Linked DNA regions of Homo sapiens: region 1 is linked to region 2. Evidence: fine-mapped expression QTL. A gene starts in region 2. The other region holds a variant in brackets. All regions are shown on one strand. Distances are from middle to middle.

What was found.
Region 1: its variant is fine-mapped to the expression of CMTM8 in whole blood (TOPMed, PIP above 0.99).

What each region holds. Positions count from the first base shown.
Region 1 is chr3:32,279,835-32,282,743 of GRCh38, forward strand. All of the region lies in intron 1 of CMTM8 (CKLF like MARVEL transmembrane domain containing 8), which reads left to right. Among named protein-coding and RNA genes, the nearest start is that of CMTM8, 43 kb to the left of the region's middle. The variant G/C (reference allele first, on the strand shown) is at 1,237.
Region 2 is chr3:32,237,167-32,240,075 of GRCh38, forward strand. It overlaps CMTM8 (CKLF like MARVEL transmembrane domain containing 8), which reads left to right and starts at 1,514. Exons shown (of 4, transcript NM_178868.5): 1 at 1,514-1,953. The coding sequence starts at 1,807. RefSeq lists a silencer at 1,318-1,527.

The sequences.
Region 1 (2,909 bases), 43 kb after region 2:
CACCTGTTGCTTCCTGACTTTTTAATGATTGCCATTCTAACTGGTGTGAGATGATATCTCATAGTGGTTTTGATTTGCATTTCTCTGATGGCCAGTGATGATGAGCATTTTTTCATGTGTTTTTTGGCTGCATAAATGTCTTCTTTTGAGAAGTGTCTGTTATTAATAATGGGAGACTTTAACACCCCACTGTCAATATAATTAGTGATTTTTTTAAGAAACCATAAATCTATTGCTTCATAGTGGTAACCAAGCACTTCGTAGTGGCCACCAATCAGGAGGAAGTCCCTGATTGACCTAGCTCAGGTCACATGGCCATTCTCAGTCCAGTCAATGTGGCCAGGCATAAGTGAGGGGGGAGAATAGGGTCTGGAAGCAGGGAACCTAAGGCTGATTCACGCTGATTTCCTAGAATGGAATTAAAAGGAAAACCCCAACTTTCCATGCCCAAGTAACAAAAGGATCATAAGCTACTTCCTTTGCACCCCCACCCACTTTTTCTTCGTGGCAGATGGAAAATGGAAAGTACTCTGATTGGTCCCCTTCTGCAACCAATCAGACTGGTCGTGGGCCTAGTCTTTATTTGCATAGGGGTATAACTTTGTAACTTCACTTCAGCCTTTGATTGGTTGCCTTCTGCAATCAATCAGACTGGTCATGGGCCACTTCTTTATTTACATAGGCTGTAACCAAGTAACCAGTGAGAAACCTCTAGAAGGTATTTAAACCCCAGAAAATTCCATAACCAGCATGCTTGAGCCCACTCCCATACTGTGGAGTGTGCTTTCGTTTCAAAAATCTGTAGTTTCATTGCTTCATTTGTGTGTTTTGTCCAATTCTTTGCTCAAAGTGCCAAGAACCTGGATGACTCACAGTCAAGACCCGTCACTGGTAACATAAGTAGTCTGGCCATACCTGGGTCATCTGTCTACTTCTGGTACCTGGGGTGGAGTCGACCCTACTCAAATTACATTGAAGGAAAGGTAGGTCTCCAACACGAGAGAAAATAGGCAAAAAAAAAAAAAAAAAAAAAAAAGTGACAATTATATTTGGAACTACCTTTGTCTCATTTTATAAATAAAGCAGCTGAGGGTGAGAGAGATTATCGTGACCTAAGGTCACAACCAGGAGGCGGCAGAAGTGGGATTCACACCAGATCTTCCTGACTCTAAATGGTAGACTGTTAATTCAGTGCACCCAACTATTTCTGAAGGGAGTTATCCTGGAACTCCCCAA[G/C]CCCCATCTCTGCATGGGGACAATCCTGAGGTTTGATGCTCCTGTGTATGACTATTAGTATGTAGAGATACCTTGTAGGCCCACCATGGCAGGATTTTGTGTAGGAGCACATGTTTAGCTGTAAGCTCTGTTTTCCCTGGCACCTCTCTAGTGGCTACACTGTACCTGAAAATATTTCTCTTACCCATCAAAAGAACTCTTTACATTAATAAAAGTTGGAAGAGTCAGGCAGCTGGATTCGTCTCTTCTCTTGGAACGTTTTGATTAATTTAGCACATGCATTCTCATCAAGGGGTGGTGTTGCTTGCAAGGGAGCAAAAACTGGTTCTTGGGGGTAGGGAGGGAAATCTTACCTTTTTTAAATGAATAAAGTACATATATACATGTAGTATCTAAATAGACAGTTTATCTGAGATGTTAAAATTTCCTGGAGATAATATGCTGTGATGAATGCCATCTTGAAAACTGTAACATATCTTCCCTCCAGAAGATATGTCCCTCATTCTTCAACAGTTGTCACCTTTTTTCTCTGCTCCACCTTGCAGCAAAACTTCTTGAATGAGTTGTCTTTATTTCCTAATTCCTCTCATCCCACCTGCTCCTGACTGAACCCTCTCCAATCAGCCTTGTCACTAGTCTACCCAAACAGCTCTTACCAAGGGCACCAGTGACGTCTGTTTTGCCAAGCCAAATGGTCAACTTTCAGTGCTTATCATACTGAGCCTGAAGGCCACATTGACACAGTTGACCCCTCCCCTCAATCCTTTAAATATCTTATTTTCTTGGCTTCAAAGGTCACTGTCCTAATTTTTTTTTCTTATCTCACTGGATGTGTACCTCATCTTCTTTCCTGGTGCCTCCTTATCTCCCCAACTGTAAATACAAGAGTGCCAGGGCTCAGGCCTTAGAACATTCCTCTTTTCCGTCTACACTCATTCCCTCAGAATCATGGCTTTCAACTCTCTCTATAGGTCCTCATTTCTAGCCCCAGCCTAGACTTCTCCCCTGGATCCCAGATTTGTATCTGCCCACTCACCATCTCTTCTGATATGTCTCATAGGCAACTCAGGCTAAGTATCAGTTTTGGGTTAATACAGAGAACAGAGAAACATATTAAAAGAACCCATGAGGACACAGTCAGCAAAATCTAGATTGTGTGTACGGGACAAATGACCCAGTTTTTTCAAAAAATAAATTTTAAAGAAAAAGGAATAGAGGAGATGCCTATAGATTAAAAGAGATTTATGAGATAAAAGTCAGTTGCAATATATGTACCATATTTGGATATTGATCCAAGCAACCATAAAATAATTATGAGATGATCAGGGTTATTTGAATATTGACTGGATATTGGATATTATCATTAATTATTTTTAGCTATGAGAATGGTGATTTGGCGATATTAGAAAAAAATTAAAAAAATATATACCCAGAATGTTATCAATTCTTACCACCTGCAGTATTATCACCCTCAGCCAAACTAACATCCTCTCTTGTATTATTTTTATATTGCCTCTTAGCTGATTTCCCTGCCTATAACCGACCCCCTACACCGGTCTGCTCTCAGCACAACAGCCAGAGATATCCTGGTAAGATGTGTCATGATATTCCACTTCCCATTGCATTTGGAGTGAGAGAGCCAGTCTGTTCAGTTTCAGTCTGCAAGACCCCAT
Region 2 (2,909 bases):
TTGCATTTTTGATAAGTTCCCAGGGAACTTACCTGCTGTTGGTCCAAGGACCACTTTGAGAACTACTGCTCCAGGGAGAAGTGCTATATTTTAAATTTTAAGAATTTACCCACCAGCCCAAGGTGCTTACCAAATGCACATGGATGGAATCTCTCCAAATCTACATCTTTGCCATGCTTTTGAAGCCTTAACTTTTACTCCTGGAGGTCTTCCTGGCTAGGCCCTAGACTTAAAAGACACTAATTCCTTGTTTTATTTTATTAGATTGTCGTTTTTGCTTTCTTCTCAGCACACTTGATAAGACACTGTGAAGAAAATGTCCCTTCTGATCTCGTTTTTAACCTGTCTTGGAACAGATCAGCAGAAATGCCTTCACTGTGAATCAAAGATACCCTCGATTTATAGCCAAAGATTATTTCCTTTTCTTTTGGTGGCTTCCAGATAAAATGTTTCTTGCTACCCTTTCACAAAATAGAAGGAGGGACCAAGCGGAAGATAATCTTTTTGTTCAGAGGTCCATCTGTCAAAGCCTGCATTTTAGAGATGGCATTACTGAGGTCCAAAAACTAGAGCCACTCGCTCTGGGTCATACAGCCGATAAACGCACGCAGCCGAGCTCAGTTCTTCCCTGACCCTGTTACAAACTGCCTCACTAAATGAGGACCCCCATCCCCTTCCCATGCCAGGAAAGCACAGCTCATTTGTCCTAAAGTTAACATTACACAAATCACACCCTTCAAGCCTTCTTGAAACATTTTTTTTCCCCGAGGGTGACGGGACGGTTACGCTGATTCATCCTGGCCAGGGACCCCAAACATCTCCCCTCCTCCGGCCCAGGCGCCGTCACCCAGGCTCCACCGGTCCGCGGGACAGAGCCGCGGAGAGCGCCTGGAAGCGTCGCGCCCTCAAAGCCAAGCGATTAAGTTGGTTCCTCAAATTGTTCCCGACAGGAGGGGCAGGAAATAACACCGGGCTCTGGCGGCGGCCGCAGCAGGAGGGGGAGAAGAGCGGGCCGTCTCCCGGGCAGTGCTGGCGGCCTCTCATCGATCTCGGGTCTAAGGTCCGGCCGGGTCATCATTCCTGCCATTTCCACAGCATTCGAGGTACCACATCACCCCCTGCCTCGGTCGTCGCTCAGTCATTCCCTCCGCGCCGAGTCCTGGAGCGGCGGAGTCCCTGGAGGCCTGGGTTTCCTTAAGGGGCCCCAATGCCCGCAGCCCCCGACCCGCCCAGGTGGAAGGAAACAGGCTGCGGGCCTGGGCCAGGCGGGGCCTGACAGAAGTAAAGGCCGGGAGGGGGAGCGGAAGACGGCCAGAAGGACCCCTGCGCCCTCTCCTCCGCGCCGCCCGCCAGGCTGCCAACCCAGCCACCCTGGGTGCGACGCGGCGCCTTCTCCGCCGCTGGGAGTCGGGCAACAGGTGAAGAGGGCGGGCGTCCGCGGCGCCTCCGCGGGGCGGTCCCTCTCCTGCCCGCCTCCCGCCCGCCCCTCTCCCCGCCCCCTCCCCTCCTCCGGGCCTCCACCGCCTTCCCCGGCTGCCCGGCAGCCTCCCCTCGCTCGCTCTCCTCTTCCTCTAGGGCCCCAGCGCAGCTCGGGAGCCCGCGCACCGAGGCGCTAGGGGCACCGCGCACTAGAGGGACACCCGCCGCGCCTGGACAGCCCCCGGCGGGCGCCCCCCTCGCACCTCCTGCCCCGCGCGGGCCGCGCTCCCCTCCCCCGCGCCTGTGTCCCCAGGGCGCAGGGCCGCGCGTCCAGCCCCAGACCCGCCGGGGTCCCTGGGGACGCGCCAGCCCGGCAGTGGCTCGACGATGGAGGAGCCGCAGCGCGCCCGCTCGCACACAGTCACCACCACCGCCAGCTCCTTCGCAGAGAACTTCTCCACCAGCAGCAGCAGCTTCGCCTACGACCGGGAGTTCCTCCGCACCCTGCCCGGCTTCCTCATCGTGGCCGAGATCGTGAGTGCCGACGGGCCGGGGGTGGCGGGGGGCTCAGCTGGACCCCGGCGCGTGCTTCCGCCGTGCTTCTCGGGATGGAGCCTGCTCAGATCTTCCCGCGGGCTTTAGGGAACCGTTTTTGCTCAGCCTCGCCTTCTTCCCAAAGTGAAAGACTCTAAACAAGGTCCAGGAAACTCGGGCTGTCCTGGGAAGAAAGGGTTGTGATCCTCAGGATGTCTTGCTGTGGGAGAAATTCAGCTTGTTGGGTCCTCTCGGTGGCGGCGGCAGATCCTGGGAGCAGGAAGCTTGGCTTAGTGGCTATTGAGTTTGTGTTGAGTGTCAGAGACACCTGGTGCCTTTCTCACCTGATCTCCACGTGGATGGCCTCCTCCCTGAAAATAAAGCTTCCTAAGATCAGGGGAAGAGGAAAGGGCTTCTTTCTTTTCCTAATTATCTCCCTGGTAGTAACATTGAGGTGAGTCAGGAAAATTTTACTGAATAAAATCTGAGTGCCATAACCTATTTTAGGACCAAAGAGGTCTTTTGCATGGTGCTGTGCACATCCTGGTTTAGGCTCAGAACATTCCTGGGAAGGAGGCAGGGCATGGGCGTTCTTCTCTTCATTGGAGGGCATAGAGGCTGAAAACTCACGTGATCTTCCCAGAAGTCCCAGCCAGTCCTTCATAGCTGAGAAAGGACTGGAGTCCTGTCAGCAGTTAGAGGTGGTCACTGTTTGAGTCTTCTTCGTGTACCAGGATCTTGTCAAGCCCTTTAGATGTCCTCATACCCTCGTGTAATCCAACGACCACCCTCCCCTGTGAAGGCCTAGAGAGGGGACGTAAATCACACCGGTGGATGGTGAAGCATGGATTCAAACCCAGGCCTGCCTTTCTGCAGGGCCGTGCTCATAACTGCAAGCAGTTGAGACAGCTTCCAGCTGCCCCAGCAGTGCCCCTCTGTCATCTCTCACAGACTTT